2 separate regions of the Homo sapiens genome follow, and region 1 is linked to region 2. The links come from fine-mapping of genetic effects on plasma protein levels. A gene starts in region 2. The other region holds a variant in brackets. All regions are shown on one strand. Distances are from middle to middle. Region 1 overlaps NMI (N-myc and STAT interactor). Region 2 holds the start of TNFAIP6 (TNF alpha induced protein 6).

Region 1 (3,998 bases), 82 kb after region 2:
ATATATGAATTCTGGAAGATTGTTAGGCTTATCTCTTAAGAGATAAGAGAAAAGATTCATCTTATGAGAAGAATCTAGAACTTGAGAACTTCTACATTGTGATTTTGCTGATATACTTTGACATTAATATATTCTACTTTGGGACCAAGAGCAGTGGCTCATCCTGATAATACCAGAACTTTGTCTGGGAGTCCGATGCAGGAGGATTGCTTGAGTCCAGGAGTTCCAGAGCAGCCTGGGTAACAAAGTGAGAGCTCGTCTCTACAAAAAGTTAAAAAAATTAGCTAGGCGTGGTGGCATGCACCTGTAATCATAGCTATTCTGGAAGCTGAGGTGGGAGGATCTCTTGAGCCCAGGAGTTTGAGGTTACAGTGAGCTATGATCACATCACTGCATTCCAGCTTCAGTGACAGAATGAGATCTGGTCCTCCTTCCCCCTGACCCCCCAAATTATATATTCTACTTTGGTAGCAAGACCATTATCACTTGGAATCACCGCCCGCCAAATTTTTAAAATTAGACCCTTTAATATTAAAGAAAATTAAAAATATTCAGGATAATTTGTTCTTAAACCAAAAGCATAACAATTCTTAAAATATTGGAAATTAATACTTCCTTCCTGAATTATTTTTCAGTTGCTCAAAATGTGGTAAGCATGAGTAAACATCATGTACAGATAAAAGATGTAAATCTGGAGGTTACGGCCAAGCCAGTTCCATTAAATTCAGGAGTCAGATTCCAGGTAACAGGATGATTAAAATTTTTTGGATTTCTGTTCATCACAAGCACTTCTCTCATCCATATTTCTGAACATCAAATCATTTTCCAGGTTTATGTAGAAGTTTCTAAAATGAAAATCAATGTTACTGAAATTCCTGACACATTGCGTGAAGATCAAATGAGAGACAAACTAGAGCTGAGCTTTTCAAAGTCCCGAAATGGAGGCGGAGAGGTGGACCGCGTGGACTATGACAGACAGTCCGGGAGTGCAGTCATCACGTTTGTGGAGATTGGAGGTACTCAAGGGTGTAGAAGGTTAACAGACACTCTGCCATTTCAGTCATGTTCTGTTGTTTCTGAAAGTATTCCTATTCTACTTCTTTTATTTGGAATGTATTAGCATGATAATTGGGGATTTTAAAAAACCTTATAAAATAGTAGAGTGTAGGAAATTATTTCCAGGGACAGTACTAGGAAAGATAATATTGCTACAAATAGGCAGGGTGCAGTGGCTCACCCCTGTAATCCCAGCACTTTGGGAGGCGGAGGCAGGCGGATCACTTGAGGTCAGGAGTTCAAGACCAGCCTGTCCAACATGGCGAAACCCCATCTCTACTAAAAATACAAAAATTAGCCAGGCATGGTGGCAAGTGCCTGTAATCCCAGCTACTTGGGAGGCTGAGGCAGGGAGAATCACTTGAACCCAGGAGGTGGAGGTTGCAGTGAGCTGAGATCACCAGGCATAGTGGTGCGTGCCTGTGGTCCCAGCTACTCAGGAGGCTGAGGTGGGAGGATTACTTGAGGCCAGGAGGTTGAGGCTGCAGTGACCTGTGATTGCACCACTGCACTACAGCCTGGGAGACAGAGTGAGACCCTGTCTCAAAAAACAAAATTAAAAAAAAAAATTGATGGATTAGATTTTTTCATGACAAAGTAATACATGCTTTTTTAAGGAAGGTGAAATAATACAGAAGAGCAAACATTTAGTAAAAATGAGACATTTCGGCCGGGCCCGGTGGCTCATGCCTGTAATCCCAGCACTTTGGGAGGCCGAGGCAGGCAGATCATGAGGTGAGGAGTTCGAGACCAGCCTGACTAACATGGTGAAACCCCGTCTCTACTAAAAATACAAAAAAATTAGCCAGGTGTGGTGGCGCATGCCTGTAATCCCAGCTACTCGGGGGGCTCAGGCAGGAGAATAGCTTGAACCCAGGAGGTGGAGGTTGCAGTGAGCCGAGACTACGCCACTGCACTCCAGCTTGGGCGACAGAGTGAGACTCCGTCTCAAAAAAAAACAAAAAGAGACATTTCCTCAAACTTCCCTTTCTCCTACTATTTAGTTAGTTATGGTTATTTGGGTGTCTTTCCAGGCTTTTCTCTGGGCACATTAAAACATGTCAATATCCTTTTTTTTTTTTTTTTTTTTTTTTTTTTTGTGAGACAGAGTCTTGCTCTGTCGCCCGGGCTGGAGTGCAGTGGCACTATCTCAGCTCACTGCAACCTCCGCTTCCCGGGTTCAAGCAATTCTCCCACCTCAGCCTCCCGAGTAGCTGGAATTACAAGTGCATGCCACCATGCCTGACTAATTTTTGTATTTTTGGTAGAGACGGGGTTTCACCATGTTGGTCAGGTTGGTCTCGAACTCCTGACTTCAAGTGATACGCCCGCCTTGGCTTCCCAAAGTGCTGGGATTACAAGCATGAGCCGCCGCTCCTGGCCCAATATGCATTTTTGACCTGAGCTTTTGGATGATGTTTAGGACATCCTGGTGGGATGTGTCAGGGAGAGCTATAAAAGGAAGGGGTCTTGAGGGCTACAGTAATATGTTGTCTTGGAAATGAACAATAACTTGGTGGAAACTTCCATAGTCAAGCATCCAGATTTTAATTTGCCAAATTCATATATTCATTTAGCCTGTTTGGTGTTAGTTTGTCTATATCTTGGATTTTAAAAAATCTGGCCAGGCGCAGTGGCTCATGCCTATAATCCCAGCACTTTGGGAGGCGGAGGCGGGTGGATCACTTGAGGCCAGGAGTTCAAGACCAGCCTGGCCAACATCGCGAGACCCCTTCTCCACCAAAAATACAAAAATTAGCGGATGTGCTGGCTCACGCCTATAGTCCCAACTACTTGGGAGGCTGAGGCAGGAGAATTGCTTGAACCTGGGGGGTGGAGGTTGCAGGGAGCTGAGATTGCATCACTGCACTCCAGCCTGGGTGACAGAGTGAGACTCGGTCTCAAAAAAACC[G/C]AAATAAAATAAATAAAATAAAATAAACTAGAATGCAATTTATAACTCTACTGTGAGAGATAATACTAGCTTTGGAACCTGTGTCCTTGGGCCATCTGGGGATGTTCTCCTAGAGGTTACATCTAGCCAGATGGGAAAAATACTTCTGCAGGTTATAGGTTATCCAGCAGGTAACTACTGAAGGATGTGAAGGTATTCTGGAGATAAATATGCCAGATACTTCATAAACTGTGTCTTACTGACTCATCACAATAATCTACAGGGTAGGTACTGTAATTATGCTTATTTTACAGAAAAAGAAACTGAGGCTTTAAGAAGTCAAGCAACATATCCAAGGCCACATAGCTCATAAGTAGCAGAGCTAGGACTGAAGCTGGTCTATTTGACTCAGGACCTGTACTCTTTTTTTTTTTTTTAACTGTGATAAAATATATATAACATAAAATTTACCATTTTAACAATTTTTAAATGTACAATTCAAGGGTACTAAGTACATTCACAATGTTGTACAACCATCACCACTATCCATCTCTAGAACTTTTTAATCACCCCAAACTGAAACTCTGTACCCATTTAACAATAATTCTCCATTACCTCTTCTTCCAGCCCCTGGTAACCATCATTCTACTTTCTGTCTCTATGAATTTGCCTATTCTAGGTACCTCATTCAAGTGGAATTATACAATATTTGTCCTTTTCCTGTCTGTCTTATTTTGGTTAGCATAATGTTATCAGGGTCCATCCATGTTGTGGTATGTATCAGAATTTCATCCTTTTTAAAGGCTGAATAATATTCTCTGTGTGTGTGTGTATTTTATATATCCATTTTGTTGATCTGTTCATCTGTTGGTGGATGCTTGGGTTGCTTCCACCTTTTGCCTATTGTGAAAAATACTGCTCTGAGCATTAACGAGCAAGTATCTGTCCGAGTCCCTGCTTTCAGTTGTTTCGGGTATATACCCAGAAGTTGAATTGCTGGATCATATCATGTTCTATTTTAATATTTTGGGGAACTGTCATACTGTTTTCT
Region 2 (8,534 bases):
ACATCACAGGGGTTTGCTGTACAGATTATTTCATCACCCAGGAATTAAACCCAGTACCTCTGTTCCTCTCCCTTCTCCCACCCTCAGTAATTTTTCTTAAACTTTTGGTACCTACTGAAACTTGTCTAGTAATAACATAATAACAGAAATAGCAAAAAATTTTTGTTATAATTTCTGATTTAATTTATTAAATATTAACATTCCACATTGTTCCTCTAATAGCGCCAAACTTCCCAGTATGTTGCCATATGAACAAATAGAGAACTCTTGGAGTATGTACCTGACAATTTTAAATAAGGTGTTTTATTAAAAATATTTCTCAATTCAGAATTTTGAGCTATTAAGATGGACCTTTGTACAATGAATCCTAATTTTACCTTTCAGAAGCAATAATATTTTATTAATTTATCTAGTCAATAGTCATTTATTAAAACTGAAAATTTGTTTAATAAATGTTTTCTCCTTTTAGTGAGTGGCGGCAGTAGAAATGGACTTTGGTTCCACTGCTGTTTCTACCATGGAGTTGTATAACCAGATGAGCCTCAGTTTCCTCATTTGTCAAATGGGACTAATGATAGCTTCTGGACCATAGAAGGAACTCAAGATACGTCACTTTTCCTTTCTTTCTTTTTTTTTCTCTGAGACAAGGTCTCACTCTGTCACCCAGGCTTGAGTGCAGTGGTGAGGTCACGGCTCACTGCAACGTCTGCCTCTTGGGCTCAAGTGATCCTTCCACTTCAGCCTCCTGAGTAGCTAGGACTACAGGCATGCACCACCACACCCAGTTAATTGTGTTTTTTTTGGTAGAGACAGAGTTTCTCTATGTTGCCCAGGCTGGTCTTTTTAATTCCTGGGGTCAAGCAATCTGCCCACCTCAGACTCCCACAGTGCTAGGATTACAGGTGTGAACCACTGCATCCCACCTTCCTTTCCCTTCTTTTTCAGATTCAACAATAAAAATAATTGCTTATCTGTGCATTTTTTATTCTCATGATCCATGTAAAATGATTGTAATTTCTTGTCCTTAACTGTGGTTTGTTTTTGTTTTAAGTACTATTTTAAAAATTAGATGATACCAGAGTTAAAATAAGCCTTAGGGATCCTTTACTTCAACCTTATCATTTTACCAGATTGGAACCATAACCTAGAGAATTTAAAGTAAACTTGTCCAACTTGCGGCCTGCCAGGACGGCTTTGAATGTGGCCCAACACAAATTTGTAAACTTTCTTAAAACATTATGAGTTCCCTGGGCCAGGTGCGGTGGCTCACGCCTATAATCCCAGCACTTTGGGAGGCCAAGGTGGGCGGATCACGAGGTCAGGAGATTGAGACCACCCTGGCTAACATGGTGAAACTCTGTCTCTACTAAAAATACAAAAAATTAGCCAGGCGTGGTGGCGGGTGCCTGTAGTCCCAGCTACTTGGGAGGCTGAGGCAGGAGAATGGCGTGAACCTGGGAGGCGGAGCTTGGAGTGAGCCGAGATGGTGCCACTGCACTCCAGCGTGGGCAACAGAGCGAGACTCTGCCTCAAAAAAAAAAAAAAAAAAAATTATGAGTTGCCCAAGACAATTCTTCTTCCAATGTGGCCCAGGGAAGGCAAAAGATGGGACACCCTAGATTTAAAGTGTCCTGTTCTTGATAGTTGCTAACAGATGTATCCCTTCTAATCCAACTATCTTTCCTTCCTAAATGGTTTCTAAAAAGATTATATTGATCCAACCAACTATAAACATCTGTGCTAGGCTGGCTGGTCAAAAATTTGCCCCAGATTGAAGCAATTTGCAATTATCCTGACCCTCAGATTTGTAGCATACATTAATAGACGTTTGAATTTGCTTCTCTCTACCTCTGGGGCAAAACTTCTATTGTCCAGGTTTATATTTTTGTAACATATGACAACACTTTAAAAGACAACTCTAAATTACTTGATTATTAGAGGGTTTGATAATATTTCAAAGTTTATCTGCCTGGATTTAATTCTTACTAGCTTTATGACATTTAAAAAAAATCCTGACAAATATGAGTGTATTTCCTATATTTGACTGTATTCAACTAAAATAAAGAGATGGGCTCATTCCTCTACTAAATTTCAGATCCCGTCTTGGCCAAATGGATCACAGTGAAATTAGTTCACTGGCTCAAGCTGAAAAAAATAGGCGGCAAGGCTGTGCATTACAAATTAGGCTTTTTAATGAAATCCGCATGGTTGCAGTTATTACCAGAGAGAAACATGCTGAAAGGGAAAATATTCTACAACTGTGCTGTTTAGAAAGCATAAAATCAAAATCTAGGTTAATTTCGCCTTCTCTTTATTTCTTTATTCTATGCAAGAATCTATGCATTTTTCCCCAAGAAATTCAATTTTTTTTTACTATTAAACACAATAATGAACATAGAGCAATATCAATTTGTATCATGAGAATTAAAGCATTGTTTAGCATACTGTAATCTAAGGGGTGTTTTGGATTTTCTGCATTTTCCTTTTTTGATCTATTGTTTATCTTCACTGTTTGGCCTGTCTCATTCCTTACATTTAACAAAACAAAATAACAAAAGAAACTTTCCTTGTCTAACAAAAGGGTCAGAAAAGTATTTATATGGATAGTAGAAACAGAAAGAATCAAAGTGGTAAGAATGCATTCAGAAGGAGAAACATTTTTCACTTTTTTCTGTACTGCAAGCTGGCTTGGTCAAAATAGTCAAAATGTTTGAAAAAACTAAGATATAGACTATAGCTCAGAGTCCATGAAGCAATTATTATAAAATTTTCGTAGACTCCAATTTACCTGTTAGGATTCTGAAATCTGATTGCAAATGCATTGACATAAAAACAGAAGACTATATTGGAGTTTCTAGTTGGTTAAAGAAATACTCCTCACTGTACTACTACATCTGCTTTGAAAAGTTTAAAAATATATTTTCATACTGAATATAAATATTAACTGCTATTTTCTACTGAACAATTCACTTTATAAAATGCTATTTTTAAATTTTAGAGGACAAGAACGCTTAAAAAAAAAAAAGCGTATGTATTCCAAAGGCTATCTTTCCTAAGCATTTTCTTTGAGAACATCAGCCTTGTACAGAATAGAAAAAGTTACTGCTTTAAATTTCCTTCTCCATGATTTAAAGAATTGACATTCTCAACAAGAGGCTCATGAGTGAAGGTTCTTACCAAGCCATATGGAGTTATGAAAAATTCCATCCTTGAATCCCCATCCTTGAGTGTCTTCCCATAGCAAGAGAAATAAGTAAATTAAGATGATCATATCGTCAGTTGTAGTGAAGTAACAGCCTGTTAGGGGCTGCTCACAAATTCTCAGAGCAGTGGCTGAAATGTGACTGAAACATCTGGTTTCCACATCTTTTAAATAGTTTTTTTCAACTGTGAGGTCAGCAAGTACTCTCCAATGGCATTTTCCGCTGTAGAGTTACACAATTATCTCAGTGTCTGAAGCAAATCCTCTGACTCATTTGCATTGGCAACCAAAACTAAGGAGATAGAATGATCATCTATGTTTTAAAATTAACTTACTAAGAACGGAGTTCATTTATTGTTAGTCACAAACACTTTTCTGTTAGAAAGTTTGTGTAACTTGATGCAGATTTAGCAGTGATTAAAAGAAAATCGAACTTCAGTAGGAATTTCAAGATAAATCCTAAATGTCTTATTTGCAGTGTCAATTATGGGATATGGGGTTAAACACTAATCTTTTATTGGTAATGTTGGACTGGCTTTTCTAAACATTGTCAAGCCTGTGTAAAAAATTTAAAACAAAAAGTATGCACAGCTTGGAGAATCCTAATTTTTCTCCAGTGATATATGACTTCCTTATTCTCTGCCTGCTTTTCTTCCAGGGTGGGGTCTGTTGCAGTCTTTGGTGTGTTATGGTCAGCAGCTAAATAAATGTATCAGCTCCCAGAAAAGTATTTCAATTTCAGAGCGTCAGGATGTTCCAGCAGCTTTGGGATGTCCTATTATAACACAGTTTTCCCAGGCCACAAATTCTTGAAGTGTTGGGAGAAAGGTGGGTAGACTAACAAAGTTAATAAAAACTTGTCCCTAGCTTCCCTAGACCACTCTAACTTTGAAGAAGACGATCAAGGTAATAGATAATAATTATTACAGTAAAGTCATCATGTCTTCAAATATCCCAAACTTTCCTCTTCCTTTGTGTAGAATCCTTGGGTAACATATCTGATAATACTCCCACTACCGCTGATGCTAATGGCATTTCCTATTGTTCATTGATAGCCATTTATTGGCAACTTTTGATTTTTTTACAAAATTGGTCATTTTTTGCTACTTAGATTCTCTACTTTTGGTCTCAAATTGCTTCCCATTCACTCCTATTATAGCATTCATTTCTCCCATGCTTTCTTAGTCCCTCCAATGATGTTGGAGTTCTTTGAAAAAGCCAACTTGCTAGACATGCTCTGGTTTGAAGTTAGCTTTGAATCCCTTAGACATCTTTGCTTTGAACATCTCAGGTGTGTTCTGGTCTCATCTCTTCTCAAAAGAGCAGTTATGGGGATGTAGGCTGAGAGTACAGAATTTATTGGATGCTCACTGAGGTATACATAAAGTTACTAGCATTGAAAATCTTTATTTTGGACTGGTGGCACATGAAAGATGAGGGAATTGTATCCAAGTTCACAGATAGGGTTAGTGAATTTAAGTTTGTTGCAAAAGAGAAAGGTATAGTTTAGACCAGGTGGGTGTGACTATGGAGAAGACAGGCATGGTTACTGAGAGCAAGATTCATAGGTAGTTGGAAGGAATAAACCATGATATTTCTTTGGAAAGTATAATTATATGCGTATTTTAAGTTTGTGGTTTAGGAAGTAAATATAACTTTAGTTGTGCAGTGCTACAGCAAAACCTTCCCATAGTCTTTCCAATTCTTTTCTTGTCACATCCTCCAGCTGTGCCCTTTCTGCATCTCTCTCAAGCACCTAATTTCCCCCTAGTTCTCATTTATCAAAAATTACTCTCAGGAAAGGGTTTGCAATTAATCTTTAGTTAGGCCAGATAACTAAGAACAGATACCCTTCTGTGTTCATTTGCATTTTAATGAAGCTCCAAGTAGAGCGAAGTGTGAATGTTCAACTTCTTTTAACACGAAAATTTAATGAGTTGCTTTGATGAATTAACCCGATCTGGGGTGGAGGATTTCTTTCTCCCCTCTCCCAACTCTCATGCAGAATATAAATATTTCCCCTTACCTCTGCATAGTGTCTGAAAATCTCATCCTCCATATCATCAAGGAAATAGAGAATAATGCCTAATGATGTAAGTTCTGATTTTGAGGGGCATTCAATAAAGGAAAGAGGAAATGGGGTTTTCATATGGAAAAGATGCAGAGGGTAATCCTGAGGACGAGAGAGAAGAAAAGAGAGAGTAGCAAAGGAAATGTTGCCTATGAACTTACCTTGGAAGTTGTCTAAGAAGCACCCTCTGCCCAGCCTCCAGCACACACCACCCAGGATAAGCCTCATGAGGAGCTGAGAGAAGATACACTGATAAAAGTTCCTTTCAGGCCGGATGCAGTGGCTCATGCCTGTAATTCCAACACTTTGGGAGGTCGAGGCAGGAGGATCACGAGGTCAGGAGTTTGAGACCAGCCAGACCAATATGGTGAAACCCCGTCTCTACTAAAAATACAAAAATTAACTGGGTGTGGTGGCTTGCTTCTGTAATCCCAGCTACTCAGGAGGCTGAGGCAGGAGAATCGCTTGAACCCGGGAGGCGGAAGTTACAGTGAGCCAAGATCGCGCCACGGCACTCCAGCCTGGGTGCCAGAGCCAGACTCCATCTTAAAAAAAGAAAAAAAAAGTTCCTTTCAAGGTTCTGGAAGACTTAACCAGTCAAGTATTTTGCCTTCTCAGAGGAATGCCCTCCCCTTCCACTATCTCTGGGTCAAGATGTGCAGTGGCTCCTTTCGCACATATCACCACTAGCTGAAAACCCAGCAAGACTGCTTTTTGTAGAGGAGTTCCTGTTTTGGTTGCTTTTCTACAATGTTCCAATGCCCGTAAGCCTAAGCAGCTATTAGATACCTAAAGGCATGGTGGAGAGAACTCCATATCTGAATTGGGATAGGGCTGCACTGAACAAGCTTAAGATCTCTTAAGCTGCCACGATAGTTAATGATGTCACTATTGCACAAAGTTAACTGAAAAAATGAGACACTAGCCAGTGTGGTGGTGTGTGCTTGCAGTCCCAGCTATTCAGGAGGCTGAGGCAGGAGGATCACTTGAGCCTAGGAGTTGGAGGCTTCAGTGAACTATGATCATATCACTACACTATAGCCTGGGCAACAGAGCGATATGCTGTCTCGAAAGAAAAAAAACAGCAAGAGAGACGCTAAAGTAGAATTTTAAACATCTATTAGCAGTTAAGAGGAAATATTTTATATCCTTTTGACATGCTGAGTCTCAGCTGACAGGAAAAAGGGATGGAGAAGTGTCAGGTGAATATAGACAGGAGAAAAAGAAAGAGAGAAGGAAAACAGGTTCTAAGACAACATGTCTGATTATACTTAAGACTGGATTTGAATGGCAAGATGTGCAAAAATGCAATTCTTTGATACACTGTATGAAAATTAAAATATAAATTATATCCTTTATTAAGCATATGTTGCAATCTTGGAAAGAGCAGGAAAAAAACCAAGATGAGATTAGCAAAGGGTGGAGCTCCGTGAATCACAAAATATGTCAATACAGGACATTTTTAACACTGCCAATAAGGACATAAAATTGCAATACAGGAATGCCCCACCCATCCCAGAATCTCCACATGGACTAGGATAGGAATAAAAGCAATAAATGAAGAAAAACCCATTCCCCTTGAGTGTGACTTAAAATGATTGGAGAGAAATTCTTATGTGTGACATAGAACATACTTAAAGAAATGAAACATGTGGCATTGTACTCGTTCATTCAATAATCAGTGCAAACTTTTACAGGGTCAGTGAGCAGGATAGAGCCTAACTAGAACAATGGGAAATCTTTGGAAAAGTGAAATATTTATTTATTTATTTTTTTGAGACAGAGTTTCGCTCTTGTTGCCCAGGCTGGAGTGCAATCACAATCTCGGCTCACTGCAACCTCCACCTCCCAGGTTCAAGCAGTTCTGCCTCAGCCTCCCGAGTAGCTGGGATTACAGGCATGCGCCACCATGCCCGGCTAATTTTGTATTTTTAGTAAAGATGGGGTTTCTCCATGTTGGCCAGGCTGGTCTCGAACTCCTGACTTCCAGTGATCTGCCCACCTCGGCCTCCCAAAGTGCTGGGATTATAGGCATCAGACACCATGCCCAGCCTATTTAATTATTGTATATCAAAAAGCTTTGAGACAGTGAATATGAGCCTATGTACAACACCGAATGGAATAATGCACTTTCAAGTTTATGGGTAAACAGATGTCAGAAAGAGATCCAAAATTGATGTCGGACTTCCAGTTGTTAATGCAGTGTGACAGTTGTTAGTAATCTTCACCAAATATTTCCAGCTTGTCAACTTCCAGCAAACATGATAGCATTGTATGTGTGTCCCTCTGTGGTTTGGTGGAACCATGTGATTATTTTTGGCTAATGAGATGTGAGCAAAAATTATGTATGTCATCTTAGAGTGAGAATTTGATTGCTAATGCTCCAGAACTCTTTCCTTCTGGCATGGCGGGAAACATTTGTGATGACAGCTGCTCTTTCACCCTGATTCCAATTGATCCCTGGATTTTATATAACATGAATGAACTATAAACTTTTGTTATTTTACGTTATTGAGATTTTGGGGTCATTTATTACTGCTAGCATAACAATCTATCCTGATTTGTAGGAAGAAGTGAGCTAATATAGATATTAAAACAAAGGGTAAGTTTAAAAGGTTAGCAGTCTAAGGACATTCAGATGCAAAAACTAAGACAAGAAGGAGAAATACGAAGAGGAGGAAATAAGAATGAGGAAAAGAAGACAGTGATTAATGGATTTAATATTCTTCCTCTGCCCACCTCCCAAACTCCTAATAACACACAGCTCCTCGATCTATGATTTGCCTCTCCAAATTTATTGACCAGTACCCCCCCCATATGCATTTATTCCAATCAGACTGCTTCCTGTTCCTCTAAGTCTTGAAAACATGTCTTCTTTCCTTGCCTCTTGTCTTCTCTAACTAGTCAGGGAATCACCGAACTCAGTGTTAGAAACCAAGAGATCAGCTGGCTCAAATTCTACCTGTTGTAAATCACTGCTATGCTGCCCTTATTTATTCATTTATTATTTGAGAAGTGAGGTCTTGCTATGTTGCCCAGGCTGACCTCCAACTTCTGTGCTCAAGTGATTCTCCTGCCTCAGCCTCCTGAGTGGCTGGAACTATAAGTGAACATCATCACACCTTCGTAACCTGAAATCCTTAAAACTTTGGCTCATCCTTAAACTGAGGCCTACAGAGTAAGTCTTACTTCCATCGGCTTTCAGGAAAAATTTCTATGACCTATGAAGCCCGGAGCAAAGAATCAAGCACATATATTTGA

What was found. A credible set is the group of variants that fine-mapping cannot tell apart. PIP is the chance, under the fine-mapping model, that this variant and not a neighbour inherited with it causes the effect. Protein levels are from the aptamer-based SomaScan assay of Sun 2018.
Region 1: its variant is the best candidate, but not a certain one, in a credible set for the plasma level of the TNFAIP6 protein (Sun 2018, PIP 0.71).

Annotation. Positions count from the first base shown.
Region 1 is chr2:151,272,502-151,276,499 of GRCh38, reverse strand. NMI (N-myc and STAT interactor) reads left to right here. Exons shown (of 8, transcript NM_004688.3): 5 at 636-742; 6 at 830-1,016. Among named protein-coding and RNA genes, the nearest start is that of RBM43, 13 kb to the right of the region's middle. The variant G/C (reference allele first, on the strand shown) is at 2,969.
Region 2 is chr2:151,352,404-151,360,937 of GRCh38, reverse strand. TNFAIP6 (TNF alpha induced protein 6) reads right to left here and starts at 3,346. Exons shown (of 6, transcript NM_007115.4): 1 at 3,178-3,346. The coding sequence starts at 3,271. The region is part of intron 2 of LOC101929319 (a long non-coding RNA gene); the gene reads left to right.